2 separate regions of the Homo sapiens genome follow, and region 2 is linked to region 1. Evidence: fine-mapped expression QTL. Tissue or cell type: whole blood. Region 1 holds a variant in brackets; the other region holds the start of a gene. All regions are shown on one strand. Distances are from middle to middle.

Region 1 (15,750 bases):
AATTACTGAGCTGGGTGCCTAGACTACAAAGATGACTCTGACAATTCTTGCCTTTTGAGACCAAGATATAGATATAGATATAGATATAGATATAGATATAGATATATCAGTATTATGATAGATCCATAATGCCTACCGGATAACTACTATGTGGCAGGCATTATTCTATATGTAATTGTATTAGTTTACTAGTGCTACCATAACAAAATGTAACAGAAATTAATTTTCTCACAGTTCTAGAGGTTATCAATTCAAAATAAAAGTGTCAGCAGGTTGGTTTCTCCTGAGGCCTCTTTTCTTGGCTTGCAGATGGTGGCCTCCTTCTCTCTGTGTCCTCACATGGCCTTTTCCCTATGCTTGTGTGCCCTTGGTGTTTCTTGGTGTGTCCAAATTTTCTCTCCTTGTAAGGACATCAGTCAGATTGGATTAGAACCCACCCATATGTCCTCATTTTAATTATCTTTTTAAAGGCCTTGTCTCCAAATACAGTCATATTTTAAGGTACTGGGAGTTAAGCCTTCCACATATAAATTTAGAGGAGATGCATTTCAGCCTGTAACAGTTATATGAAACACAATCCCTACTATATAGAAAGTCATCAATTTTTAGAGATGATAAATACACTTATCAAATTATTGGTGATTATAATAACAAATATTATTAAGATAAAGGGATACCATAGAGGTGGCAATCATGAATAATGTCTTAAGGTGCCAGCAGATGATTATAAGACAGTGTCATAAGGTCTTATTAGAAATACGTTACCTGGTTAGTGGAGCACAGAGGAGAAGACACTACCTGGAGATTAGCAAGATTGGGAAGGGCATTGACTCTAGGCTGAGGAAACAGAGGTATGAAAAAAACAAGTCTGGAGAATAGAGTGCCTCTGTGGAGGAGTAGTGGGAAACTAATTTGCTTCTCTACTCACTGACTCAACGTTTATTGAGCATCTTTTTGTTAAATATTCTCTGTGTATAAATCCTGTTTAAGGCTAGAGATACACAGATGGTTAAGACACAGCCTTGACCTCTTAGTATCAAATTTGGGGTAGAGGTCAAGGCAGTTGTAAGATGGAGGTTGGAACATCAGTTAAGATTTAATTGCAGTGGCTGCAGGGATTAAATATAGAGGTCTTAGTGACCAACCATTTAAATATGGTGGACAAAAACCTAGAATGATCCCTGAGGTTTTGGTCTGGTTAGAGGAATCTGGGAAGGTAAACCAATGGAGGAACAGATTTATGGGCAGGATGTCAAATTCAATTTGGGACATGTTAGTATGAGTCATATTTGGTAAACCCAGACAAAATGCAGACTTTATTTATTTATTTATTTATTTTTGAGACGGAGTCTTGCTCTGTTGCCAGGCTGGAGTACAGTGGCGTGATCTCGGCTCACTGCAACCTCCGTCTCTCGGGTTCATGCGATTCTCCTGCCTCAGCCTCCCCAGTAGCTGGGATTACAGGCGTGTACCATCACACCCAGCTAATTTTTGTATTTTTAATAGAGATGGGGTTTCACCATGTTGGCCAGGATGGTCTCGATCTCTTGACCTTGTGATCTGCCTGCCTTGGCTTCCCAAAGTGCTGGATTACTAGTTGTATATGTGGTTCTGGAGGTTGAAAGAAGTGGGCAGGAGATATGGTTGGGAGTCATCATCGTAGAGGAGTGAATGAGATTTCATAGACAGTGTGTAGAATGAGAAGAGAGAGGAGCCCAGGAGGGCCCCTTTTCTAGGAAATATGGGTCCCAGTTCTTGCCCAGTGTAAGTCCCAGTCTTACTGTTTCAGGACCCTTGTCAAATGTATCGCCTCTACTGGGAGTATTTACATGTTTTTCTTTTTAAATCAGTTTTATTGAGATATAAGCAACATACAAGAAAATGTACTTTTTAATAGCATGTAGCTTTTAAAATCACATATCGTTTTAAAATTTCACCTACCCGGCTGGGCACGGTGGCTCACGCCTGTAATCCTAGCACTTTGAGAGGCCAAGGCGGGCGGATCACGAGGGCAAGAGATCGAGACCATCCTGGCTAACATGGTGAAACCCCATCTCTACTAAAAATACAAAAATTAGCTGGGCATGGTGGTGTGCGCCTGTATTCCCAGCTACTTGGGAGGCTGAGGCAGGAGAATCGCTTGAACCTAGGAGGTGGAAGTGCAGTGAGCTGAGATCATGCCACTGCACGCCAGCCTGGAGACAGAGCAAGACAACGTCTCAAAAAAAAAAATAAAACATAAAAAAATAAAATAAAATTTACCTACCCTTCAGGGAATACTAAAATGCTAAGTTCATGAAAGATTTTTCTGATTTCCTTCCAGTTGTAAGTACCCCTTCATCTCTGAATCTCATAATGTAACTTTTCTGAGACATTTATTACTTTTTTGCCCATAGTTATTTGTTTACTTATCCTCATCCTTTATTTTAGACTCGAAGCTGATTGAGAACAGGATCTGTATAGGCATCTTGTGTAAAGCATGTTCTTAATAAATGTGGCCGATGAGTAAATTTTATTTATTATTCTATTTTTATTTTATTTACTTATTTATTTTCAGACAGGGTTTTGCTCTTGTTGCCCAGGCTGGAGCACAATGGCACGATCTCAGCTCACTGCAATCCCCGCCTCCCGGGTTCAAGCGATTCTCCTGCCTCAGCCTCCTGAGTAGCTGGGATTATAGGCATGCGCCACCATGTCCGGCTAATTTTTGTATTTTTAGTAGAGACGGGGTTTCACCATGTTGGTCAGGCTGGTCTTGAACTCCTGTCCTCAGGTGATCCACCCGCCTCAGCCTCCCAAACTGTTGGGATTACAGGTGTGAGCCACTGTGCCTAGCCTCTATTTTTAGATACTAACTCAAGGAATCTCAGATTAAGTAGAAATTATAAAATGGAGACATGGTAACATTCTGTAGAAATATGCATAAATACTAATAATATATAAATATGACCTGAACCAGTAAATATAGTTAAAATGTTTTTCTGTTTTTTGTTTTCTTTGGAGACAAGGTCTCATGCTGTTGCCTGGACCTGAGTACAGTGGCATGATCATGGCTCACTGCAGCCTTGACCTCCTGGGCACCAGTGATCCTCCCACCTCAGCCTCCCGAGTAGCTAGGACTACAGCTACAGGACTTACAACCATGCCTGGTTAATTTTAAAATTTTTTGTAGAGATGGGATCTTGCTAGGTTGACTATGCTGGTCTCAAACTCTTCAAGTGATCCTCTTGCTGCATCCTTCCAAAGTGTTGAGATTACAGGTGTGAACCACCATGCCCAGCCAAATTTCTTATTTATGAAATTATTTGGGATGAAAAATCATACCATAAAAATGAGCTTTTCTTAAAAATATGGTTACTCTTAATAATTTTGTTGAACAAAATCTCAGCTAATATACTTCTGGGATTTTTTTTTCTTCATAATGAACTAAAAGTAAAAGTTTACCAATTACAAAAGAAACATCAACACAGTGAAATTGCTGTTACATTCATTAAAGTACTGCTTCTATTAATTTTATAGATACTCATCTATATGTCCTAAGTAGCCAGTACTTTTTGCTGAAGACAAATGTAAGTGGTAATATCTTTATTTTATAGATGAGGAGATGGGGGCTCAGAGAGGTTATATAATTACCTGTGTGCAAACCCACAGATGTTATATGGCACAACTGAATGGATTGAGAGCTGTCTTGACTTCAAAGCCAATATATGGGGTTTTTTTGCTGTGCTTATGTAACTTGGAAATTACATGGATTTGGACAGTCTTAAAATCTTAAAGTATGAGACAGAGTGAAAACTCATAAATATATAGTTTCTATTCCCACACAATTTTAAACCTAGAGTTTTAAGTGATGAGTGAGTCTCTGAATCCACAAACAAAATTATATTCATGTGCAGTTTTCAACTTTTATTCTATTCTTTTTTTCCCTCCCGCAAGAGGGGGTCTCACTCTGTTGCCTAGTCTGGAATGCAGTGGTGCGATCATGGCTTACTGTAGCCATCATAGCTGACTTGAGACATCGACCTCCCTGGCTCAAGTAATCTTCCCACTTCAGTCTCCTGAATAGCCGGGACCACATGAGCCACCAAGCCTGTCTAACTTTTTAATTTTTTGCAGAGATGGGGTCTCCCTATGTTGCTCAGGCTTGTCTGAAACTCCTGGCCTCAAGCAATCCTCCTGCCTCAGTCTCCCAAAGTGTTGAGATTACAGATGTGAGCCAACATGCCCAACCATGTTCTGTTCTTATATGAATCCAGGTCAAAAAGATTAAGAACCTAGGATTATCATAGACATCCCTTCTACTTTGAATATTCTTCTAAGTTTGTGATTATATGCTATGTATAATCTTAGACAATCTTCTAAACAATGATTGAAAAGAATTATAATGATAGGCACATGAAAAAGCAATGCCTTGGCCCGGCACAGTGGCCCACACCTGTAATCCCAGCACTTTGGGAGACCGAGGTAGGCAGATCGCTTGAGCCCAGGAATGTGAGGCCAGTGTGAAACCTGGGCATGGCAAGACACCATCTCTACAAAAAGTACAAAAATTAGCCAGGCGTGGTGGCGCATGCTTGTGGTCCTATTAATAGCTGCTCGGGGCACTGAGGCAGAGAGGACTGTTTGAGGCCAGGAGGTTGACGCTGCTATAAGGCATGATCATGCCACTGCACTCTAGCTTGGGTGACAGAGTGAGACCTTGTCCCCCACCCCCATCCCCCCAAAAAAGCAGTGTTCCCTCTCAAATGCAGATTTTTTTAAAAGAATATATTCCTTGTCTTCCATACTAGTGGGAAATTTTTATGGATTTTTTTTCTTCATTTATTCTTTTTTCTTGCTTAATTTAGGGTAGTGTTGGGATAGAAGATACACTTTATAAAAAGCAGAAAGACCAATCATTGAGTTATTTTAGAGACAATATGCCAGATCCATACCTTTAGATTTAATCTTACCTTTTTTTTTAGTTTCTCTTCATTCAAGCCGAGGTAGAAAGCCAGTGGTGGAAAGCTGTGGTATTGCATAGGCTACAAACATTGTATTGTCAACTTGAAAGTATAGCTACTTCTAAGGATGTTGATGTTCATTGTAGTTTTTTATTTATAGTAGCTAAAATTAGAAGCAACTTAAAGCTTCCAAAAAGAGAACAATACTTTTGAAAAATTAAGGCACATCCTACTTTGGATTGTTGCACAACTATTAAAGTTTGGTTTTCAAAGAGTGTTTAAAAGACACCAGGAGACTTCTTCTTTTCTTCTTCTGGCCAAGATGAAGTAAAAGGGACTCGATTTATTTACCCCCTCACATGACACAATGAAAAAAAAAATGAACAAAATATATTTAAAGAAAAACTGTTTGGAAGGCATTGGACACCAGGCAACACAGGACAGTGATTCCCAAAAGATAGAAACAAATAAGAGGAGTAGTGTGGTTGCCTGGAGACAATTTCCAGATACCAGCCCCAGGAGGAGCAGCCCAGGCATATTCTGGAGGTCCTCTGAACTGGGGAGCCAGACCTGGAATCTGAAGAGGCCACAGTGGTTTGGGTTTGCAGGGCAGATTACCAGAAAGAAGAAAGCTGCACAGAGAGAACACTCTGGCTATCTCCAGGAGGTCCTACCCTAGTGTTTAACTAAGTACTGGTTAGTGCATATGTGTGAGAAAACTATCTGAGGCCAGAGAAGGAGAGGGAATATTCCTTAAAGTTCACACAGGGGCCGCAATAGAGTTAGAGCTAATAAACCAACAAGGAGATAAAATGGAATCATAAAAAGGTATACAGTAATTCCAAGAGAAGTGAGAAAAAGAGGAAAAAGGGAACAAAAAACATATAGGCCAAGTAGAAAATAAATAGCAACCATATCAATAATCACATACATCACATTAAAAGTAGATGCTCTAAACCAGGGGTCAGCAGACTATCATCAAGCTGACAGCCTGTTTTTGTAAGTCAAATTTTTTTACTGGAACAAAATTATTCCCCCTATCCCCGCTTTTCAGTTCAGTGATAAATGATGTCTACAAAAAGCCTACATTTCTCATCATACTAGTGATGAAAGAGTAAGTACTTTCTCCTTAAGATCAGAAACATGACCAGGATGTCTGCTCTTACCACTTCTATCAACATTAAACTGGAGCTTTCAGCCAATGCAGTAAGGTAAGAAAAAGAAATAAAGGCATCCCTACTTCCAGAAAGAAAGAAGTAAACCTGTTGTTGTTTGTAGACGTATGATGTCTACATAGAAAATCCTATGGAATATTTAAAGAAGTTATTAGAACATGTAAGTGAAGTTAGGGTTGCAGGAGACAGGATCAGCATGTAAAACACTTGTTTTTCTATATACTAGCAACAAACAGGAAATTGAAATAACATCAAAAAATAACATGAAATATAGATAAATCTGACAAAAGGCATGTAAGACTTATACATTGAAAACTATAAAATATTAGTGAGATAAAGAAGACCCAAATAAATGGAGATATATGTCATGGCTTATGGATTGGAAGACTCAACATTATGAAAATGTAATTTCTCTCCAGATTGAACCACAGGTTCAACACCATCCTATCAGAATTCCAGCAGGCATTTGATAGAAATTGACAAGCTTATTCTAAAATTCATATGAGGATGAAAAGGACCTAGAGTCAAAACAACTTTGGAAAATAAAAACAGCTGGAAGACTTAATACTACTTTATTGTAAGACTTAAAAAGTTACAGTAATCTAGACAGTGTATGTTGGCATGAAGTTTGACAAATAGGTCAATGGAATAGGATAGAGTCCTGAAATAGATGCACACATAGAGGGTCAATTGCTTTTTGACAAAGATGTAAAGTCAGTTCAATGAAGAAAGTAGATTAAATTTCAATAGACAGTGTTGGAACAATTGGATATCAGCATGCAAAAAAAGACTTTGTATGCAGAAGTTGACTCACAATGGATCACATACCTGTATACAAGA[A/G]CTTAAAACCTATAGCCAGAATATTAAGTCTCAGAATTTAATAATAACCCAATTTAAATAATGGACATAAGAGCTGAAGACACTTTACCAAATAAGATATACAGAAGACAAATACACACATGAAAAGATACTCATCCTCATTAATCTTTTTATTTATTTATTTATTTGTTTATTTATTTTTTGGAGACAGAGTTGCTCTGTCACCTAGGCTGGAGTGCAGTGGCATGATCTCAGCTCATTGCAACCTCCGCCTCCTGGGTTTAAGCAATTCTCCTGCCTCAGCCTCCCGAGTAGCTGAGATTGTAGGCACACACCACCATGCCCAGCTATTTTTTTTTTTTGTATTTTTAGTAGAGATGGGGTTTCACCATTTTGGCCAGGCTGGTCTCGAACTCCTGACCTCAGGTTACCCGCCCGCCTCGGCCTTCCAAAGTGCTGGGATTACAGATGTGAGCTACTGTGTCCGGTCAACCTCATTAATCTTTAGTGAAATGCAAATTAAGACCACAGTGAGGCCGGGTACAGTTGCTCACGCCTGTAATCCTAGCACTTTGGGAGGCCAAGGTGGGTGGATCACCTGAGGTCAGGAGTTGGAGACCAGCCTGGCCAACATGGTGAATCCCTGTCTCTACTAAATATACAAAAATCAGCTGGGTGGGGTGGCACACACCTGTAATCCCAGCTACTCAGGAGGCAGAGGATGCAGTGAGCCCAGATTATGCCACTGCACTCCAGCCTGGGCGACAGAATGAGACCCTGTCTCAAAAAAAAAAAAAAAAAAAAACCCACAGTGAGACACCATTAAACACTTGTAATAATCGTCTAAAACTGAAAAGACCATATCAAATGTAATCAAGGATGTAGAGTAACAGGAACTATGATGCACTGTGGTAGGAATGTAAAATGAAACAGCTGACTTGGAAAACAGTCTAGAAGTTTCTTAGAATGTTTAACATATGTATTATAGTCATCCCTCCATATGTGTGCTTTGAAACCTGTGGATACAAAGGGCTGACTGTACTACCTCATTTTATTTATTTATTTATAAATAAATAAAGAGACGCTGTCTTCCTCTGTCACCCAGGCTGGAGTGCAGTGGCGCTGTCTCGGCTCACTGCAACCTCTGCCTCCTGGGTTCAAGCAATTCTCTGCCTCAGCCTCCTGAGTAGCTGGGATTACAGGCGCCTGCCTCCACGCCCGGCTAATTTTTTTGTGTTTTTATTAGAGATGGGGTTTCACCATGTTGGTCAGGCTGGTCTTGAACTCCTGACCTCGTGATCCACCCACCTTGGCCTCCCAAAGTGCTGGGATTACAGGCGTGAGCCCCCGTGCTCGGCCACTACCTCATTTTATATGAGAGATATAAGCATCTGGAGATTTGATATCCAAGGGGAGATGGGGTCCTAGAACCAATCCCCTGCGGTTGCTGAAGAACCGTACCTATCATTTGACCTAGCCATTCCACCCCTTAGTATTAACCCAAGGAAAATTAACGTGTATATTTCCATACAAAGGTTTGTTCATCAATGTTTATAGTGACTTTGTTTATAATAGCCAAAACTCAGAATTATCACTAATGTCCACCAGCATGTGAATGGATAAACAAATTGTGTTATACCCATATAATGGATTAGTATTCAGCACTAACAAATAACGAAGTACAGATACATGCAAAAATAGGGACCAATAATTATTTTTATGCTTAAATAATTATGCTGAGTGAAAGAATCCTGATTAAAAATATTCTTTGTGATTCCACTCGTATATATAATTCTAGAAAATATAAACTGATCTATAGCAAGAGAAAGCAGATCCTTCATTGCTTGGGAATAGAGGGCTGTGAGGAAGGGTGAAGGGAGGAAAATCAAGGGTCACAAGAAACTTTTGGTGATGATAGATATGCTCATTGTCTTTTTTTTTTTTTGGAGACAGGATCTTGCTTTGTTGCTCAGGCTGGAGTGCAGTGGTGTGAACATGGCTCACTGCAGCCTCAACTCCCTTGGGCTCAAGCGATCCTGCTGCTTCAGCTTCTCAAGTAGTTGGGACCACAGGCATGCACCACCATGCTTGCCTAATTTTTGTACTTTTTGTACAGGGTGGAGCAGGTAATGGGAATGAGTCAGAGTGGAGACACGGTGGCTCGCCATGTTGCCCAGGCTGGTCTTAAACTCCTGGGCTCAAGCAGTCCTACTACCTTTCCCTCCCAAAGTGCTTTGACTACGGGCACGATCACTTCCCCTGGCCCATTGATTATCTTTATTGTTGTGGTAATGTTATGGATGTGTACTTACCTCAAAATGTATCAAATTGTATACTTTAAGTATGAGCAACTTATTATATGTCTATTATGCTTCAATAGATCTATTTTTAAACTTAGGGAAGTACAATATGTTAATAATGCAGATTACAGAATCATTGTGGTTTTTGTTCATAAAGAGAATTGTTGAGACACATATTCATGTGCTTACATGGTATCTCCATTGGGATATTTTTTAGGCATCTCCAAACTGAAATGCCTGAAGCTGAACTCTTTGAGATTACTCTCTAACTTCTTTTCCTCCTTTCCTCTCTATTCTGTTTTTTTTTTTGTTTGTTTTTTGTTTGTTTTTGCATCTTTATAAATAGTATGTCCGTCTCCCCATTTTTTATGCAAGAAGCTAGGAAATCATCTTTGATATTTATGTTACCCTCTTATCTACTTTATCACCAAATTGTGTCATTGAGAGCACATTTCAAATCTGTAATCTTGTCTTTCACCACCACCACCACCATTACCCCAGTTCAAGTCATCATCCTCTCTCACTAAAATAAAGCCTAGTGACTATGCTCCCTGGTGTTATTCTTGACTCCCCTCAATCCAGTGATCAGAAAACAACCACAGCAGATCTTTTCAATGATTTTCATTGCTCTTAGGATACAATCTGAAATCCTTTCAATATGATCAGTTTCTCTTTGCCTCTTGCTTATTATGTTCTGACTACTGTTATAAATAGTTTCAGTACCTCAAAAAGCACTTGAATATAAAATTTTCTTTTTAATTCTCAGCAAGGCAAGTTTTTCTATAGAAGGGTGCACCCTTACAGATGGAGTAATGGTGGGCGCCCACTTGGACAAGGGAGGGGAAGGGTTTATTATCCCTGATGCATGTGGCCCCCCACTGCTGTGTCCTTCTCCTGTTGGCTAGGGTTAGACCACACAGGCTAAACTAATTCCGATTGGCTAATTTAAAGAGAATGACGAGGTAAGTGTTTTGGCGGGAAAAATGGTTATGACAGAGCAGGTAATAGGAATGAGTTAGGGTGGAGTAGGTAATCGGAATGAGTCAGGGTGGAGCAGGTAATTGGAATGAGTCAGGGTAGAGCAGGTAATCGAAAAAGGTTGCTTTACGAGGAAGTTAAGTTTAAAAGTAGAAGGCAAAGAATTGAACATACTGACATATTGATTCTTTGAAAAGAAATTTAGAACTCATAACACTACACTGGCTGCATTTCAGTTTCTTGAAATCTCCAAACTCTTTACAGCAGGATTTTCTCACATGGTATTTTCTGAACCTGCACTAGTTGTTTTTTTTTTTTTCCCCCCTTACTCTTTCAGTAGCTACTCCAGTCTGTGCTTCAAGTGTCAGTTTAAATGCCTGTTCTTCAGAGAGTCTTCTTCCTGACTTGCTCAATCTAAATTGGAACCCACACCAGTACCCTGTAGGTTTTCTTCATAGCTGTTTTTCAGGGTGTTTTGCTTTTGGGTTTTTTCTTTTTTGGAGGGAGGAGGTGTTAATTTGGATGTATGAGAGATGATTTGTTCCTGTAGTGGTCTGAAAAAGTCCTTGAAAGTTGATATCATGTATGTTTTGTTCACTGCTGTGGGTGGCCACCATCCAGCTTTCCCTGGTGCAGTCGACAACATTTGTTGAGTGAATGTTTAGAGAAAATGTGTTGGAAGTAAATATCAGTGGTGCCTTTGAGTGGTGCATGTTTGGTTTTGTAAGATTACCACAATGAGCCATAATAACTTTCAAATCAGAAAAGTTATAAAGTGTCTCTGTAACTTTGTCTATACTGTTTGCCCTTACTAGAGAGGAAAAAGCAAATGTTGTTTTGCAACTCTGGATTCTTGCTCTTGATACTGTTAGAATATTAGTTACCTTGATATATTACTTGCCTTTTCATATTTCTGAGTTGCACAGATCTAGGGGGCACTGTTTATATTGTATTGTTTATGAATGGGAACTTCTGGATTAGTGTGAAGCAGAGGCTCCTCTTTTAGTACCATTTTTAGGCATAGTTTACCTGGAACCATGTTTATGCTTCTCTCCTGGATCTACCTACAATGTATACACCATCTTGTGCCCTTTAGCTTAGAAAGTCTTTCTGTATTTCTCTGTTTTTGTCACATTTAAAAAAAAATAAGTCACCTTTAAAATATATTGTATTCTTTAGCATAGTTTTGACCAATGTCAACTTAGGAGAAATTTAAGATTTTTTTGAATTCCTAATATTAATCTCTGACAACTCTGGGGCTGGGCATTTGGTGAATATCCTCTAAATACTTTTTAAATTTTTACTGAAAATCACATATTTCTGTTTTCAGAAATTTGAAACCATGTATCTTTTTCTTGTAATTCTCCAGACTGCTTCAGAAATGGTAATAGGTTTAGTCCTTTGAGGTTCTTAAAGTATAATTTTCAGAGAATTACTAACTTGACTGAGTAGCTTAGTATATTTATTTTTTTACCCATACTTTAAATAAACTTTTTCTCACCTAGCAATGCTTTTTATAATTTTGTTTGTATTCTTTTACTTTTTAAGATGTCCTTTGTTAATGTTATTTTATTTGTTTCTATAATAAATATATACCAACTTTTTTAACAGATAAAATAATTAGGCACAGGGCTTGTACCCTGAAGGACACTGCACATGCTATCATTGCAGCTGAATTAGATCCAGAATTTAATAAACTTTGTGAGGAAATTAAGGAAGCAAGAATAAAAAGAGGTAAGTTGTAGAAATAAACTTGGTACTGAAGCCTAGTGTGCTCTGTTCAGGCCAAGAGTACTTGAACGCTGTTTCTTTAGGATTGCTGGTATTATGAAAGTAATGTATTTAATGTATTTATTTAATTTCTGATACTAATGTGTTATGTAAATTCTCAAAGATATTTTACAACTTTACCTACTGTGAAAGTTTTAGTGTGATAGTGTGTATTACAGAAATAAAGTGTTTCTTATTGAAATTTGTTTTGTAGGAGTATATCTTTTTTAAGAATTGATTTCTAAATGGATTTAGATATTAGATATGAAAAGGTTTTATTTTTCATCAGTTTACTTTCTGGTACTTTAAAAACATGTTTAGGTATACTGTTTTTCCCACCCTAGTGAAATTTATATGCAATTTTGTTATTAGAAACACAGAATTAGCAATTGTGGTTTGTCAATTCAGTTTATAATCTTGTCCTTGAGGAACTCACATTTTAGTAGGAGAGAGAGAAATGTAAAACCAATCAAGTACAGTGTGGTGTATGCACTGGTTGAAGCATGTTCAGAGCACAGAGATGAGACCTCCCAGTAGGGAACCCAGCATTTTGATCAGAGTAAGGAGTGAATATAGAAGTGTTCTCTCTAATGGACTAGGGAGGCAGTGATAGAGGAGGAGGAGGTGTATTGCACACAGAGAAAACAATAGCATATGTAAAGGCACAGAGGTGTGTTAAACTGGTATTGCTAAAGAAATACAGAATGCTGGAAATAGGGCTCAAGAGGTGCGGGGTCTAGGACACAAAAATTATGAAGAAACTTTTCTTCTACCTTTTTAGAGAGCTCTTCCCTGACCACCTAATCTGATAGAGGCTTTGGTAGCATTTGGCATTATATTATTTGTTTTTTGATCGTGTCCTCCTTATTTAGGATATCAGCACTTTGAATGTCTTGTTTATATCTCTGCTCCAGTCCCTAGAACCCCATCTGGTATAAAACAGGTTTTCGGTAAATATTTGAGTAAATCAATGCCATGCTAAGGAGCTTGTGATTTATCTTGTAGATCAGTGTTTTCAAAAATGTCTGCCTATTACCCACTTCAGCTTAGACCTATGAATTAGATTCTCTGAGAATATTAAGGCCAAGAAATCTTTATTTGAACAAACTATCCAAGAGTTTTTATGTACACTAAAGTTTGATAGCCATAGGCAATAGAAATCATTGAAGGATTTTAAGCAGTGAAATGAATTGGTCGAATTGCCTTGGCGGGAAGAAGTAACATGGTTTCAATGTGCCAGGGTAGGAAGATGAAAGATCAGTTTAAAAGCTGTTGGAGCCCATTTGAAAATGGTTTGGCAATTTCTAAAAAATTAAACATGGATTTACTGTATGACCCAGTGATTCTACTCTTAGGAATCTACCCAAGAAAAATGAAAATATATGTCCACATAAACATTTGTATGTTCATAGGAGCATTGTTTATAATAACCACAAACTGGAAACAACCCAGATGTCTGTCAGCTGGTGAATTGGTAAAGAAAACATAGGATACCCATACAAGCGCATACTACTTAGTAATAAAAGGGAACAAAGTACTGTTACACAGTACAACATGGACGAACTTCAAAAACATGCTGGCTGAACATGGTGGCTCACGCCTGTAATCCCAGCATTTTGGGTGGCAGAGGTTGGAGGATCGCTTGAGCCCAGGAGTTTGAGACCAGCCTGGGCAACATGGCAAGATACCATCTCTACAAAAAAGTGAGAAATATTAGCTAGGCGTGGTGGTGTACACTTGTGATCCCAGCCATTTGGAAGGCCGAGTTGGGAGGATTGCTTGAGCCCAGAAGGTTGAGGCTGCAGTGAGCCATGTTCATGCCACTGCAGTCCACCCTGGGTGACAGAGCAAGATGTTGTCTCAACAAAAAAAACCCCAAAACATTATGCTAAGTAAAAATAGCCAGACCCAGAAGACTACATATTGTATGATTTCTTTTATATAAAATGTCCAGAAAAGGCAAGTCTATAGAGACAAAAAGTGGAGTAGTCATTGCCTGGGACAGTTATCCAAAATTGGATTGCTGTGGTGATTTTACAATTCTATACATCTACTAAAAACTATTTATTGTACACTTAAAACAGGTGATTTTTATGTTATATAAATTGTATCTCAGTAAAGCTGTTGGGGAACAAAAACCTGTTGGAGTAGTCCAGGGTTTTAATTAATGAAGTAGGAAGGGAGTTAGAAGAGATTAATATAAGTGAGATGTAGCCGCAGGGATGGAGAGCACTGTGAAGTGAAGGAAGAATAAAAACTGGCTGCCATATTACTGGTTGAGTGACTTAGTAGATACTAATACTCCCAATCTAGATAGGGAATCTATAAGAACAAACTGTTTTGTTTTGTAGGGAAAGATAAACCAGTTATCTTTAATTTGATCTATCTTTAGGAAATTCAGTTGGAGATATGAAGTAAGGAGTTGTATATATGGATCAGAAGTTGTATATCTGGATCAGAGATGTTTGGGCTAAAGATACAGATTTGAGAATTATTATATAATAGTAATTGAACCTGAACACAATGATACTTCGCTGGGGAATGTGTAGATTAGAGTAAGAAGAAAAGTGGTTACAGAGAGAACCTGGAGAAAAACCAACTTAAGGACCACATAGAAGAAATAAATCTCTAGTGAAGAAAATTAAGATAGAATGATTAGTCTTAGGAATATAATGCAGGACAACCAAACTGACTGCAGTGTGGTGCGACAGGAAGCAAATAGCATTTTGAAACAGTTCACGGGAATGGGGTTTAGTAGCCCAGTAGACTGTTGTACATTCTAAGATGGCAGAGGTCATTATTTTTGGATAATATATAATCTTATTGTTCCACAGTCATAATAATGTAAAATGTGCCTCTTTGTGAATTAAAATGAATAAAAATAGGGCCCCTTTGGGGATTAAGTGTAAACATGGCCTGCCAGATTGTTTTATTTTTATGATTTTATATCTAAGTTTCTTACCCATCTTAAAACAAAAGACACTGCTTTCATTGGAACTGCAAACTGCCCTAGTATAATTAATGACTTTAAAACTCAGTTTTGTATTTGAGATTTTTTTAAAAACCTTTTGGTTTATGTAGCTGGGAATATTTAAAGAGGTATTGCTTATCTTCTGCTTGCAGGCTTATCAGTAACATCAGAACAAATAAATCCTCATAGTACTGGAGCTCGGAAGACAGAAACTAGAGTCGAAGAGGCATTTCGGCACAAACAAAGAAATCCAATGGATGTGTGGCACAACTCTGCAAATAAATGTGCATGTGAGTATTTCAGCTCATGTTATCCAGTAGTGAGAACAACTGAGAATGATGTAGATATGTTAGGAATTGGGTACAAAACAAAGTGCCGCTCTTTTCCCATAGCTCTTTTAATCTCTTTTCAGAGGTGAAGAAGAGCTTGTGAGGTAAATGCTGAATCAGAAATATATTTCTTTAACTTTATTTGTTATTTTCTATCCCTATTCAATATTATTTGCTATGACAATTGAACTAGGCTTGAATATTTTCAGTTTTAAACTTTGGTTTTTGGATAGCCATGTGGAGCCAGTAGAATTTTTATATGCCCCTGTCCTTATCCTCCACTCCTTGTACACTATGCAGGATGTTCTCTTTAGGGTGGGAAATGGACACTCCCGCATGTGGGTGTGTCTGATCTGGCAACAGGAAGTTGATTTTTCTGAGAGACTATTTTGTGTTCAGTTTGAAAAATTGGCACAGCCTTCTTTTCTTTGTAGTTTTTGTGAGATGTATTTAAAGGGAAAATTG
Region 2 (15,750 bases), 240 kb before region 1:
GCTGCGGGTTGGGGGCTCACCTGGTCAGGGCTGGGGGAGGGGGCATGGGTCATAGGAAGGGCTTTACCCAGGGCTCTGCGAGGACAGCAGACCCCTCTGCTGCCCCCTCCCCTAGCCTGTCCTGCGGCTTTCCCCACCCTCGCCCCTCCTCTGGGGCTGGCCTCCTCTGCTCCAGGTGGCTGGCCCAGTGTCTATTCTATTTTATGTCTAGAAGGAACCCAGAAGGAGGCAGGTTTAGCAGAGGACGTTAGATTTGGGGGCCATCTGCTCAACTGGAGGAGCAGGGAAGGAATGAGGGGGCACAGTGAGCCCCCTAAAAGACAACAAAGTGGTGTGGACGGGAGAACCAGCCCTAGAGGAAGGAGGTGACCCTGCAGAGGGGACCCCAGGTTGGGGGGCCTTGCCACCCAGTGCACTTACTGCATTCGGGGAGACAGTGACTGGCCCCGGGGTCGCAGTGGCCTCGCACCTGTGGGGTCTGTGGGCGCCGGACACGATGAGCCCGTGGACAGTGGCCCCCATCAGTGTTCCCGCCATCTCCACAGTCATCCCTGGAGACAGAGTGCCACTTAAGGTGACTGAGAGGGAGTGGGGTCCCAGGGGCAGTTGCCTCCCTGGAACCCGAAACCCACGGCTGCACTCACGGTAGGCGGTGGCCGAGTCCCGCTCCCTTGGGCAGGGAGTCAGCAGCATGGTGAGCGCTGTGTAGGGCACCTGGAAGAACTGGGGCGTCGGCAGAGCTTAGAACCGCCCCCAGCTTTGCCTGGTGACAGCGGGCGACCTCCCCCATCCTGGGTGTCACATCCCGACACCCACAGGCCAACGTGACATATCCCAGCTGGCCACCTGAAGTCGGAGCTAGGGTCCCAAAGGCAGGAGGGGGCAGCCAGTCCCGCGCAAGGCTGGCGAGTGCCAATGGCATGGTCCAGGCACAGGCGGGTGGGGAGGGCGGCAGCCCTGCCCCCACAGCACACTTCAGAGTGGCCATGGCCAGCAATGGGCTTCGCCAGAGCACAGGCCCAGGAAGGGGCCCTGCTTACCGTGGCCAGGGCCTGGAACAGGCAGTAGAAAGTCGTGTACCAGAGGCCTCGCAGGCTGGTGAAGGGGGGCAGGAACCACAGGAAGAAGTAGGCCAGGGCGATGAAGGGGGTGCAGCCCAGCACCCTGCGGAAGCACAGCCGAGGTGGAGCGGCCCCCCGACCCAGACAGGGGAACACAAAGGGCCCAGCCTGGAGGAACCCCACCCCTTCTCTGCCCCTTGAGAATCCCTAGGCTGGGGCGCCCTGGGTGGGAGCCAGGAGCAGGGGAGAAGTGGCCGATGGGTCATGGAGGCAGTGGGGAATGGGCGGCCACTCCTCGTGGGAGCTCCAGCTGCACTCTCAGCGCTGCTGGTGCCCTTCCCTGTGTGGACATTGGGACACTGAGCTGTACTTCCTCCGTGAGGCCTCGCATGGCCTTCAGCCCAGCCTTCCCACACTCAGTGCCCCAGGCCAGGCCTGGGAGTCTTGGAGGCTTCATCCAGCCCCGTGCCATCTGGGGAGGGAGAGTCCCCAAGAATGTCTCTGAACTCCTTATCACTCACAGTCAGTCCCCAGTGCACCTGCGATATTATCCAGTCTTGTCTCCTAACCACCCAGTGGGTTTCTGCTAGGAAATAGGGCTGTGACAAACAGTGACCTCAGGGCCAGGACCAGGTGCCTGGATCCTAAGGACTGAGCGGTTGCTCACCAAGGCATGAGCCGTCCAGACCCTGTCCTCTGGCTCCTGTTGATGAAGAACCCAGCCACAGGGTCAGCAGCCGCCCCAGACACTTTTCCCCCAAACAGAACAAGTGACACCTGGGCGGCAGGGATCTGAAACAGACAGGGGAGGGGATAGAGAGCTGAGGCCCAGCAGCAGCAGAGAGCCCATCCAGGCCTGCTTGCCATCAAGAGGGAGGCCTGGGAACCGGGACCGGAGGGCAGAGCCACAGTGTCAAGGGCTCCTCAGCCTTCCCCAGGATGCTGATCCCGGGGCTGAGTCCAGGGGAGGGAGCTGAGTGCTGCCGCCCTGCACACTCCCATTAGTACTCATGTCAGCCACTGCGGAGAGGACTCCAGGGCCCTCATCTGGGGCTGGCTCAGAGCAAGGAGGGTGCCTCTGGGCTGACAGAGGTGGACACTGTGTTTCACAATGGAAAGGATTCACTGGTTTTTCTGACTATGTAAATAATACACTCATTAGAAAAACATTCTGGCTCAGAGCAAGGAGGGTGCCTCTGGGCTGACAGAGGTGGACACTGTGTTTCACAATGGAAAGGATGCATTGTTTTTTCTGACTATGTAAATAATACACTTATTAGAAAAACACTCAAACTATGCAGGAAAATACTAAGCAAAGCTCATCTGAAATCGCAGCATCCCAAGACAACTGCCAGAATCGTTTGGATGATCAGCCTTTCATAGGCTTCTTCATGTGTGCTTGAGATTGATCAGTTTATATAAATGGGATCATATCAGACTGTCATCTTAAACATTCGTGGATACCTCATTTTATTATTTTATTTTATTTTTTAATTGAGACAGGGCCTCGCTCTGTTGCCCAGGCTGGAGTGCAGTGGCACCATCTCGGCTCACTGCAACCACTGCCTCTTGGGCTCAGGTGATTCTCCCACCTCAGCCTCCCAAGTAGCTGAGACCACAGGCACGTTCCTCTACACCGAGCTAATTTTTGTATTTTTAAATTTTTTTTTTTTTTGTGGAGGTGGAGTTTTGCCATGTTGCCCAGGCTGGTCTTGAACACCTGAGCTTAGACGGTCCTCCCGCCTTGACCTCCCAAAGTGCTGGGTGTGTGAGCCACCATACCCGGCTGGATACCTCATTTTTTTGTTGTTGGTTTTTGTTTTGTTTTTGAGAGGGAGTCTTGCTCTGTCGCCCAGGCTGGAATGTGGTGGTGCAATCTTAGCTCACTGCAACCTCCACCTCCTGGGTTCAAGCAATTATCCTGCCTCAGCTTCCTGAGTAGCTGTGACTACAGGCGTGTGCCACCACGCCTGGCTAATTTTTGTATATTTAGTAGAAATGGGGTTCACCATATTGGTCAAGCTGGTCTTGAACTCCTGACCTCAAGTGATCCTCCCTCCTCGGCCTCGCAAAGTGCTGGGATTACAGCTGTGAGCCACCATGCTCGGCTGGATACCTCATTTTAAAAATTTGGTTTTACTTACCCTCCATTCTCCATCATTCCCTCCGGTAGCCAACATTAACGAGTTGGTGTATATCCTTCTAGAATTTTCTCCATGCTCACATTTTAAACATGGACAGATACATATGTATATATACATATCCATCCACACACACACATATGGAGCCTGTCTTTGTTTTGTTAAAATGGGATCATTTTATATACTCTTCTCTAAAACTAACTTTTCTTTTTCACCAGAGCATCATGGAAATCACTCTAAGTCAACTGGTATAGATCATTATTTTGAATGGCTGCATGATAGTCTATTTGATAGTGATGTTAGTGTAGTCTGTTGACTTCTGTGGGCCACACTGGAAGAAGAAGAATTGTCTTGGCCAGGCACGGTGGCTCACGCCTGTAATCCCAGCACTTTGGGAAGCTGTGGTGGATGGAACACCTGAGATCAGGAGTTCGAGACCAGCCTGGCCAACATGGCGAAACCCCGTCTCTACTAAAAACACAAAAATTAGCTGTAGACTGGGCGCGGTGGTCCACGTCTATAATCCCAGCACTTTGGGAGGCTGAGGTGGGTGGATCACGAGGTCAGGAGTTCAAGACCAGCCTGGCCAGCATGGTGAAACTGTTGTCTCTACTAAAAATACAAAAAATTAGCCAGGCATGATGGCACACACCTGTAATCCCAGCTACTCTGGAGGCTGAGGCAGGAGAATTGCTAAACCCGGGAGGCAGAGGTTGCAGTGAGCCGAGATCATGCCATTGCACTCCAGCCTGGGTGACAGAGCGAGACTCCATCTCAAAAAAAAAAACAAACAACAAATTAGCCGAGTGTGGTGGTGTGCACCTGTGATCCCAGCTACTCGGGAGGCTGAGGCATGAGAATCGCTTGAACCTGGGAGGCAGAGGTTGCAGTGAGCCCCAAGATCACACCACTGCACTCCAGCCTGGGCAACAGAGTGAGACTCTGTCTCAAAAAAAAAAAAAAAAAAAGAATCGTCTTGGGCCACATATAAACACATAAAATACACTAACACTAATGATAGCTAATGAGCTAAAAAAAAAAAAAAACAAAAAAATTCATACTGTTTTAAGAAAGTTTACAAATTTGTGTGGGGCCGCATTCAAAGCCGTCCCGCCGCGGGTTGGACAGGCTTGGTCTATTATGTGGCTATGATACAGCTTACTTAGCCAACTGCTTCTATATTGTCGGGGATCTACATTGTTTCTCATTTTCCCACTACAAACAGGCTGCAGTAAACATTCTTGAGTACCTTGCCCTCATTGGCTTCTGGCTTTTTGTTGAGCTCGTGTCAGAAGTGCTGTCTACAAGGATAGTGGGAGCAGAAGCAGAGGTGGGGGTGGAAGGACCAGACCCCAAGGAAGATGCCAGCAGAGACTGGGCTACTGCCCACACTTACCTGTGCTATATCAAGCAGGAAAAGCTGCAGGTAAAAGGCTGTGGCGCTGGAGGCTATCTGGTTGGGGACCCCACCAATGCCATAGCACACCTTTGTACAGAATGAGAGGCGACCGGCTCTGCTGTCCTGGAGGAGACACAGGAACTAAGCCCTTCTCCCAACAGACACAAAACAGGTCCCCACACCCCATGACTTCAGTAAACATCCTGAGTCTCTGTGATGTCTTCAGGGCTTTTCCAGCAACCTCTCAGCCCCATTTTGCCCCCATGTCATCCTAAGAGGAAGTGAGACGAAGAGAAAAAAGATCCTAAACCCTGACCTCTAAACATTTCCAGGGGGGAAGTTCTTCTGGACATCTTACCCTGGGCTTCCTGCTGAAGCCGCCATCATTTACTGAGTCAGCACGGCCGTGTAAGCTGCAGGTCAGGAGACCTGGGCTTGAGCCTGCCTTTGTCACCTACCCCTCTATGTGACCTTGAATAAATCACATCATCTCTCTAAGCCTGTTTTCCTCATCTGTCAAATGCAACATCCCTGCCAACTTCACAAAGTTGTTTCTTCGATGAGTAAATGAGGCGATAGCTCATTTACCCATAGCCTGCCTACCCACAGCCCTCCAGGGATGCCTGGCAGGCGTCTCAGCTTAGCATGGTCTACATACAGCTCCTGATGGCCATTCCATTGTCTAATCCAGCTCCTAGCAAATGGCACCGCTGGTCCCCTCAGTGGCTCAGGCCACAAACTTAGGAGTCATCTATTCTTCTTTCCAGTTCTTGTCTATCAGTGAATGCCTCCTAAGTGGCTTCTGTGTCTGCCCTTGCTCCCTACAATCCACTCCACCCAGCAGCCAGTGCTCTTGTAATAACATAAATCGCACAGTGGCTCATCCCTATAAACCCAGCACTTTGGGAGGCCGAGGTAGGTGGATTGCTTGAGCCCAGGAGTTGAAGACCAGCCTGCCCAACATGGCAAAACCCCATCTCTACTAGAAACACAAAAATTAGCCAGGCATAGTGGCCGCCTGTAATCCCAGCTACTCAGGAGGCTGAGGCAAGAGAATTGCTTGAACCAGGGAGGCAGAGGTTGCAGTGAGCAAATATCACACCACTGCACTCCAGCCTGGGTGACAGAGACTCAGTCATAAATAAATAAATAAATAATCAGATCCCATCTCCTCTCTGATTAAAACTCTCCAATGGCTTGCTATTGCAGGGTTTTTTTGTCTGTTTTTGTGTGTGTGTGTGTGTGTGTGTGTGTGTTTTGTTTGTTTGTTTGTTTGTTTCCAGATCCATGGTATTCAGTCAATACCATTGCAGTTTGAATAAAACTCCAAGTCCTGATCATGGCTAAGGAGTCCACCCAGTCGGCCCCCTACCCACCTCACCTCAAATAGCTCTCCTTCAGCCACGCCGGGCTCCTTCCTATTCCTCAAAATCATCAAGTCTGTTGCTGCCTCAGGGCCTTTGCCCTTCCCATTCCTCTGCCTGGAAGGTGACTCCTTGTCATTCTGGTTTGATGTCACCAGCTTAAATGTCACCTCCTCCAAGAGGCATTCCCTAACCTCTCACCTCTCTCAGTTGTACTTACCGCCTGCTATATTTTCATTTAGTTCCTGCCTCTCCCTACAGGAATGTAAGCTCTCTGAGAGCATGAACTCCACCTTTTATTTATCATGGTGTTTCCAGTACCTAGAACAAAGCTTGGTATACAGTAGGTGCTTAGTATATATCCGTTGAAGCAATAAATGGCCATGAAGACCCTGTGTAAAGTGCTGTTTCTTTGGAAGAAGCTGGGCTCTTTTCTCATCGTTTGCTGGGGGCTGGAGGGAGTGGAGATGACATGGCTTCACCCATTTCCACATCTTGCAGGACACCCCAGCAGGCTCTTGTGAAGGGAAGGTCTCCCCAGATAAGGGTTTATCACACTTTGCACACTCTTCCTACCCACAGGGGAAAACCACACTGGGGGCAGGATGATTCTTTTCTGACATTTGTGTGAACATCATTTCAGCTTCCAGAAAACTTTAAGAACAGGCAGAATTCAACGTGACAGTCCCCCTCTCCCCCTAATGGGGACTCTTGTATCCCCCAAAACAGGCCTAGCAAGTTTTTAGAACTTTAGAAAGAACTTCCAAGTGAAGCCAGGGATATGATCCCATCTTGCCGTCTTGAGGATGACAGTTTTACCGAAAGTCATAAAAGCCCGGTACAGCTGTACAGTGAGCTGTACAAGGAGAAGCCCCTTGGGAGGGGCGGCTCCGGGCGAGGGGCGCAGCCCTGCTATCTCTAGCTGCGTGACCCAGGGCAGGGCACCTCGGTCTCCTTGGAGTGACCGGGGCTGCCACCCCTCGGAGAGTCGTAAGAGGATTCCACGCCGGAACTTCATCAGCAATGCGAGTGTTTCCCTCTTGCTGTTAATCTCACCCTGAATTTCTAAGTTTCCCTGGGAAGTGAGAGTCCCCGGAGAGCCCCTTCATCTCACCTCACTTTCTTGTGGGATGCAATCCTGTGCTCCCAGGTGCCTCGTAGGAAGCCCTGAACAGGCTGGGGGCTGAGGTGGTCAGGGGAGGCCACAGAATGCCCTGGGCACGAGCAGGGAGCAGGCGCGTTCAGTGAGGCCCAGGAAGCCCCAGGCCCCTTGCTCCGTCCAGCACAGCCCCACTGGCCAGCACGGCCCGGCGGCATCGGGCAAGGGACAAGGGGCCCCGAAGACCCCGCCGCTCCCACCTGCCCTCCTCCCTTCTTGTCGGAGCCCATGGCCAGGACCTTCCCTGAGGCTGCCTCCAAGGGGAGCCTGGTGCCTGGGCGAGGCCAGGGTCTGGGAGGGAGGCCGAGGCCACAGCAGCTGCCTGAGGTCGGGAAGGACGCAGCCTCCCCAGGCGCTTCAGAAAGCCCTGCCTGCCCAGAGCTCGGGGACCCCGGGAGGACCTGCGGTGGCACGGACAAGACCCCTAAGCCGGGAATCAGGACAGCAATGACCACGCATCCCCAAGTTACTTCCTTGGCTAGGGCTAGGCTTCCCGTCCTAGTCTCTTTCCGGCGCCGGCACCTACCAGCCTCCCCGCTCCCAGCCGTGTAACCCCGCGAGGGCAGCCCCTGAGCTGGCAGGTTTGGGCCGAGCCCCTCCGGGCTGCCCCCAGCTGGAAAAGGGGCTGCGAGGCGACGCCCTGGAGCTCCCCGAGGACGCAGCCCCTTCCCGGTCCCCGCCGCCCCGCTCACCTCTCGCCCTCGCTTGGCGCTCCCCGGGCCGGGCTCTGGGGCGTGCGGCTCCGGCTGCGGGGACCCCTTGGCGGCTGGTGCAGGGGGCGCCGCCATTGCCACCGCAGCGCCGCCCGCGGCCGTTGCCCTCGGGGTTATCGCCCTTGGGAGGGGCGGTTCTGGGCTAGGGGCGCGGCGCGAGTGGCTGCTGGCAACGCGGGGGAAACGCAGAAACCGCGAAGGGCACCCCAAAGGGAAACAGCGAAGAACCAAAATCCGCGGGGGGAAAGGCCCGGCAGGCCCTCAGGACCGTTCTCCTTGGGGTGGATCCCCGGGGGCGTGAGCGCCCGCAGACGGCGGCCCTGCGCGCTAAGGGCTCCGCCAGACCGCTGGGGTGACCGCGGGCAAGCAGCAGCTCCCCTGCAAAATGAAGCAAGAGGCCCGCTCGTTCAGGCTGGACCATGGCTGAACAGGCATTCCGCCGGCTACACATGATGCCCAACGCCTGAAATATACATTGTCGAGTCTCCTATACAGACCACGGGGATGGCCAGTAACTAAGTTCTGGCCAGCGAATAAAAGCAGGTGGCACAGGCCAACATTCCAGAAAAGTCCTTAAAAGGGAAGGGGGGTGACAGCAGGTAGCTAGTCAGCCTCGAAAAGGGCAGGAGAGGGCCACGCTTCCAACCAGGTACGTCAGGCAACCATCAGGCGACAGTCAGGCGGTTGTTATGCTCCCTCTAAAATGATCATTGATCCAGCGGGGCCAGGGAAAGGCAGTCTCCCAATAGATAGAGAAAACCTGAAACTGGTGATCAGCTTCTCGGTAAGATCTCAGGAGCTGGGCAAGTGGGCTTACACAAATTGCGGAGTTTAACTGACATGTGACCCTCGAAGGACACCGGACTGGTAAGGGAAGAACGCCTCCAGTGAGCATGGGTACAACTCCAGTATACACAGTGTGCACACTCCCCTCCCAAGTGCTGGCAGACCACTGCCCATGCAGGCAGGCCTCCCAAGGGAAGAATCAGGGGAGAAGGGATGCAAGACCCCAGAAGTATGCCAATGCATAAGACCCCAGGTCAAAAGGTCAAACTGTGCGCTTCTTTTTCAGGTCACCCGCTTGGCCCTCTTCCAAGTGTACTTTCCTTCCTTCCATTTCTGCTGTAGAGCTTTTTAATAAACTTTTATTCCTGCTCTAAAACTTGCCTCAGTCTCTCCTTCTGCCTTATGCCCCTCAGTGGAATTCTTTCTTCTGAGGAGGCAGGAACTGAGGTTGCTGCAGACCCATATAGATTCACTCCTGCTGACATATTTTGGTGCCACGTGACTCAGATACCTTCCACCAGTAACAGGGGTACACATTAACTAAAAATGCATCATAGACCTAGAATGTAAAACTTATGAAAAAACAGGAGCAAGGGACAGGCACGGTGGCTCATGCCTGTAATCCCAGCTACTCGGCAGGCTGAGGCAGGAGAATCGCTTGAACCCGGGAGGCGGAGATTGCAGTGAGCCAAGATCGTGCCACTGCATTCCAGCCTGGGTGACAGAGGGAGACTCTGTCTCAAAAACAAAAACAAAAACAAAACCAACCAAACACAAAAAACCCAGAAGCAACTCTTCATCATATTGGGCCAGGCAATTGTTTCTTAGGACGCCAAAAGCACAAGCTGGATGAACTACAAAAGTTTTCAAAATGAAAACCTTTGTGCTGTAAACGATTCCAACAAGTGGGTATAAAGACAACCCACAGAATGGGAGAAAAGGGATTTGTATTGGAATCAACTTTCACAACTCAACAATTAAAAGACAATCCAATTCTAAAATGGGCAAAGAATTTGGATATTTCTCTAAAGATATACAAATGAACAGTAAGCACATGGAAATACAAATCGAAACTACAGTGAGACACCATTTCATATCCACAGGGTGGCTGTAATTAAAATGAGACAAGTATTGGGGAGGATGTGGAGAAATCAGAACCCCTATACACTGCTAGTGGGAATGGAAACTAGTGACAGTCCTTTGGAAAAGTTTGGCAGTTTCTCAAAGTAAAACGTGGAATTACCACATGACCCGCAATTCCACTCTTAGGTGTATACACCCTACAGAAATGAAAACATGTTCACATAAAATCTTGAACATGAATGTTCATTAGCAGCATTCATATATATATACATATATATATAATGTGTGTGTGTATATATATATGCCAAAGAGGACACAAGCCAATGTCCATCAGGTTATGAATGAATAAATATAATGTGGTATATCCATACAATGGACTACTGTTGGGCAAGAAAAAGGAATGAAGGACCAATGCATGCTACAACACAGATGAACCTTGATGACAGTATGCTAAGTAAAAGAAGCCAGTCACAAGACTACAAATTGTATTATTCCATTTATGTCAAATGTCTAGAATAGGCAAATAGAGAGTGACAGAATGTACATTTGTAGTTGCTTGGGACTGGGCTAGGGAGTTACTGCTAAGGCATGTGAGGTTTTAGAATGGACAAACATTTTCTAAAGTTAAATTGTGATGGTTGCACAACCCTATAAATACACTAAAAACCATTGAATTGTATACTTTATTTTTATTTATTTATTTTTTTGAGACAGAGTCTTGTTGCCCAGGCTGGAATGCCGGGGCACGATCTCGGCTCACTGCAACCCCCACCTCCCGGGTTCAAGTGATTCTCCTGTTTCAGCCTCCCGAGTAGCTGGGATTACAGGCATGTGCCACCACTCCCGGCTAATTTTTGTATTTGTAGTAGAGATGTGCTTTCACCATGTTGGCCAGGCTGGTCTTGAACTCCTGATCCTCAGGTGATCCACCTCGGCCTCCCAAAGTGCTGGGATTACAGTGAGCCATCGGCCTAGCCTGAATTGTATACTTTAAATGGGTGAATTGCACAGCATGTGAATTACATCTCAATAAAGCTGTTTAAAAGGAAAGATATCTGCTTCTTCCTATTGGCTGAAATACAAATGTGTCGGCTGGTGCTAGTGCAGCTACCCTGAGACCCCAAGTCTACAGAGTGATGAGATTGGCAGATCAACAGTACAGGAATCTGATGATTTTATGAGGTTGATCTACCAGCCCTGAACTGCTTCCCTCTGGACTTTTGCATGGGAAATAAAATTTGACCTTGTAAGCAACTATTATTCTGGATTTTCTGTCACAGCTAAATCTAATCCTAAAGGATACACTACCCAGTTTAGAGCAAGTCATTCCATTTTATATGTCTTAATTCCTTAATCTACAAAATGGGTACATTTTGTTTCCCTGATTGCAAATACAAGGATAGATTAGATAATGCATGTGCTAAATATTTAATTCCTTGGAAATTAAATATAAACTAAAGCCAAAGTTTCTTTAGATAATCTACTTTTACAATTTGTGGGTTTTTTTTTTTTTTCCTTTCTGTGGAGAATAGGATCTTGCTATGTTTCTCCGACTGGTCTCGAACTCTTGGGCTCAAGCTTTATTCCTGCCTCTGCCTCCCTAAGTGTTGGGATTACAGGCGTGAGCCACTGTGTTCAGCTAGATAATCAATCTACTTTCAAGTACATCCTACTGATACGCATTTTTAAAAGGTTTGGAAATATTGCATTCTCAACACTTGTACTTTGTTGTTTATACTACTGCAATTTTAAGTTTGAAAGGCAGCAGGTAAAAACAATTTTAAAAATTAAAAAATGACTGGGCACAGTGGCTTACACCTGTAATCCCAGCACTTTGGGAAGCTGAGGTGGGTGGATCACCTGAGGTCAGGAGTTCAAGACCAGCCTGACCAACATGGCGAAACCCCGTCTCTACTAAAAAAACATAAAATTAGTCAAGCGTGGTGGCGGGCTCCTGTAATCCCAGCTACTTGGGAGGCTGAGGCAGGAGAATCGCTTGAACCTGGGAGGTGGAGGTTGCAGTGAGCTGAGATCGCACCATTGCACTCCAGCCTGGGCAACAAGAGTGAAACTCCATCTCAAAAAAAAAAAAAAAATTAAACAATAACTCTTTTGGACAGCAAAAAATGTAATTATAATAAAAGTCATTTCCCTAACAGTCAGTATTCTATTTAAAGTGATGGTAAGTTCATAATGTAATTTTTAATGCAAAAGACAAATTAGATTTCAATAAAGTAGGATTAAATAACAAAGGCAGCTGCCTTTTAATTAAAACAAGACTAAAAGCTGATATACTAAAAAATATCTGAAAGGATGCACATCAAAATGTTACTAGTAGTTTTTAATTTCTAATTTTTATTTTTTACTTTTTTCTTTTTCTTTTTTTCAAGACAGAATCTTGCTCTGTCGCTCAGGCTGGAGTGCAGCCACATGATCTCGGCTCACTGCAACCTCTGCCTCCTGGGTTCAAGCGATTCTCCTGCCTCAGCCTCCCGAGTAGCTGGGATTACAGGCGCGTGCCACCATGCCTGGCTAATTTTTGTATTTTTAATAGAGACGGGGTTTTACCATGTTGGCTAGGCTGGTCTGGAATTCCTGATCTTGTGATCAGCCCACCTCGGCCTCACAAACTGCTGGGATTACAGGCATGAGCCACTGCGCCTGGCTTTTTTTTTTTTCACTTTTTAAACTATTCACAGGTGTACTACCACTACTGATCAGCATTCGTTCTTGCTCCTTTTCCAATGGGCAACCTGGTAGTCCCCCGTTCCAGTGAGATCACCAAATTGATGCCAAACTTAGTGCAGACACCTGACCGACTGGCAGAGCACACTATACCCCAGAACTTCTGGGCTCAAGCGAGCCTCCTGCCTCAGTCTCCTGAATAGCTGGGACAACAGGCATGCACCACTAGGACCAGTAGTGGTTATATGTGAAAGGCAGAATAATAGGTGATTTAAGGATCATTTTAGCATATCTGCATATTATAGTTTTCTATAATGAATATAAATTATCTGTGCAAAAAATACATTAAAACAAATGACAAAGCCAAATACTGGTCTACTGAATAAGCCATTTCCATCTGAAGGTTTAGTGCAATGAGCAATTTTTTCATAAAATGGTTTGTACTTAGGAAAAGAACAAAGGAGTAAACCCTACTAAAGAGTCTTCATGCTAGTTCAGCTGATAACACAAAGAATAAATGAAAAATTAAACATATCATTGAGTTAGTATTCAAAAATAGCACATCTTTACATTTCTGAGTATTAAATGAAAGTAATGTTGGTTAAAGCAAAAGCACCTAATAAATGTTTGTTGATTATCAAACTGAATGACTTTGCCAAATAAAATGACAAGTGTATTTGCATATAACTATTTTATAACAAGGGTAAATGATTTCACAGATCCTTTTAATGAACAGTATTTCATTAACAGTTCTTCAACTGTCAGCAAAAGATTGCTCTCAAAATACTTTAAGGCACTGAAATAGATGCACACATATTATCAACATGCTGAAATGTCATGAAAAATTATACCGAGAGAAGTATATAAAATAAGATTATTTTTTAAACTGAAAAAAATGCATAGTAATTAACCAATAAACCACAATCTGTAACATTAGATATGTATTTCTTTTTTTCTTTTTTTTGAGACGGAGTCTCGCTCTGTTGCCCAGGCTGGAGTGCAGTGGCACGATCTCGGCTCACTGCAACCTCTGCCTCCGGGGCTCAGGTGATTCTCCTGCCTCAGCCTCCTGAGTAGCTGGGACTACAGGCGCACACCACTACACCCAGCTAATTTTTGTATTTTTAGTATAGACGGGGTTTCCCCATGTTGACCAGGATGGTCTCGATCTCTTGACCTCGTGATCCATCCACCTCAGCCTCCCAAAGTGCTGGGATTGCAGGCATGAGTCACCGTGCCTGGCCTAGATATGTATTTCTATATATCAGCCCTAACAATTATTTTCAAGAAACTGAAGACAGTTTTGAAACAATTGCTTAGGTCAAATTGTATGCCCCATCTAAGGTGATTATTTTCAAGTTTTCCTTCCCTTAGCAAATTGTTTGTTTTCCAAAGTCAACCTCTTTTGATAATTATACACATTTAACTAACAATTTTACAACTTTTAAATTCTCAGTTAAAAAGCTTTACTGGATGATTCTCATTGTAGAAAATCTTTGAGGATATTATTCGCATTAATGAACGTTTCACAGTTAGAATAATGAAGGTTATTGATGACAACAGGTCTTTCTCCATAGGACCCTTACTGGGATGTATTCTACAGGTACATACAAAAGAACCTCCCATGTATCTTCTGGTTAAATAATTATAAACCGGAAAATCTACCAAAGAGGCTTTTCTATAGGTACACAGGAAACATTCTCAATGAGAGACCCCTACATGGAGAATCATATGTTGACTATAATTATGCAAATAAAAATGCTACATGATAGGCCTATATGAAACATTTTCTTAGATTCCTGAACATGTATTAACTGTCATCCTGTTATTTTCTATATCAGAAAGATAAGCTCATTGATTTTATCATTGCCTCTTTTTTTTTTTTTTTTTTTTGGTAAGAACATTATTTTTGTTTCACTACAGAGAGGCTCTAACACTGCTGTGTAAACATTACCAACAATAATTATTTATTTTCTATTATGTACCTGTTCATTTCTAAGAGTAATGGACAAAAGAAAAGGCTCTCCTTTGTCCTCCCTCTCTTCCTAATTAAAAGAGCCTTCTGCCCCATGGAAGGCTGGGAGCTAGGAAAAGCAGCATTCTCACAATAGACTGCAATCAGAAGATAGATTTTATGTCAGGTCATCTAGTTACATAGATATTTCCCTGTTGTTATTCCTGAGTCCTTAGTAAAAACCTTAATTAAATGTTCCAGCCTTGTCTCGGCTGTGCTATAGGAGGTAAAGCACAAGTTTATGTCATGATTGGTTCAGTGACAAAAGGGAACAGACTCTTTCCAAGAGCAAACTGGGTGACAAGGATAAACTTAGTGGTCTAGCAGATGTGTTTCAGTGGAGTCTCCCACCGTCCATGGTGAAAGCATGCAGGTTTTATTTTCTCAGGGTAAAAGCTTAGGACAGAATTTCCTGAAGAAAGGTACTTCCACCACATACTTAAGAATCACGTGAGATTAAAAATGCAGAGATCTGAGACCCATCACAGATACAGTGAATCAGAATCTTTGTGGTAGGTGGCAGGAATGGCATTTTTGAAAAGCTGCCCCAAATGATTCTGAAACTAAGGCTTCAGAATCATTGTGAACCATCACTTTATATAGATTGGTTCTCAAAGTGTGCCTGAGGGATCCCTGGAGATTCCCAAGACCCATTCAGGGCACTGTGAAGTCAAAACGTTTTTCATAATCATACTAAGGCATTATTTGCTTCTTTTCATTCTTTCACCAGTATACAGAGGTGTTTTCCAGAGTCTACATGATATGTGACTGCACAACAGACTGAATGTAGAAGACATGAGAACCCATCTATCTTCTTTATGACAGAAAGTAATTCCCCCCAAAAAACCGGCCACTTTTCTCACTAAATCGTTTCATGTTTTATAAGTTATTATTGGCTGGGCACAGTGGCTCACGCCTATAATCCTAGCACTTTGGGAGGCCAAGGCGGGCGGATCACCTGAGGTTACGAGTTAGAGGCCAGCCAGGCCAACATGGCGAAACCCCGTCTCTACTAAAAATACAAAAATTAGCCAGGCGTGGTAGTGGGCGCCTATAATCCCAGCTACTCGGGAGGCTGTGGCAGAAGAATCGCTTGAACCCGGGGGGACAAGTTGCAGTGAGCCAAGATCGCGCCATTGCACTCTAGTCTGGGGGAAAGAGCAAAACTCTATCTCAAAAAAAAAAAAGTTATTATTATTACGGCAGGGTCTTACTCTGTTGCCTAAGCTAGAGTGCAGTGGCGCAATCTCGGCTCACTGCAACCTCTGCCTCCTGAGTTCAAGCAATTCTCCTCCCTCAGCCTCCCTAGTAGCTGAGATTACAGGCATGTGCCACCACACCAGGC

Evidence for each region. PIP is the estimated chance that this variant, and not a neighbour inherited with it, causes the effect.
Region 2: it holds the start of MFSD2B, and the variant in region 1 is the best candidate, but not a certain one, in a credible set for the expression of MFSD2B in whole blood (TOPMed, PIP 0.56).

What each region holds. Positions count from the first base shown.
Region 1 is chr2:23,761,705-23,777,454 of GRCh38, reverse strand. ATAD2B (ATPase family AAA domain containing 2B) reads left to right here. Exons shown (of 28, transcript NM_017552.4): 23 at 11,827-11,949; 24 at 15,109-15,246. Among named protein-coding and RNA genes, the nearest start is that of ATAD2B, 160 kb to the left of the region's middle. The variant A/G (reference allele first, on the strand shown) is at 6,959.
Region 2 is chr2:24,002,259-24,018,008 of GRCh38, reverse strand. It overlaps MFSD2B (MFSD2 lysolipid transporter B, sphingolipid), which reads right to left and starts at 7,924. Exons shown (of 14, transcript NM_001346880.2): 1 at 7,817-7,924; 2 at 4,599-4,724; 3 at 1,729-1,853; 4 at 1,041-1,164; 5 at 645-723; 6 at 421-551. The coding sequence starts at 7,912. UBXN2A (UBX domain protein 2A) reads right to left here. Exons shown (of 7, transcript NM_181713.4): 7 at 13,100-15,750. RefSeq lists enhancers at 827-1,382, 1,383-1,938.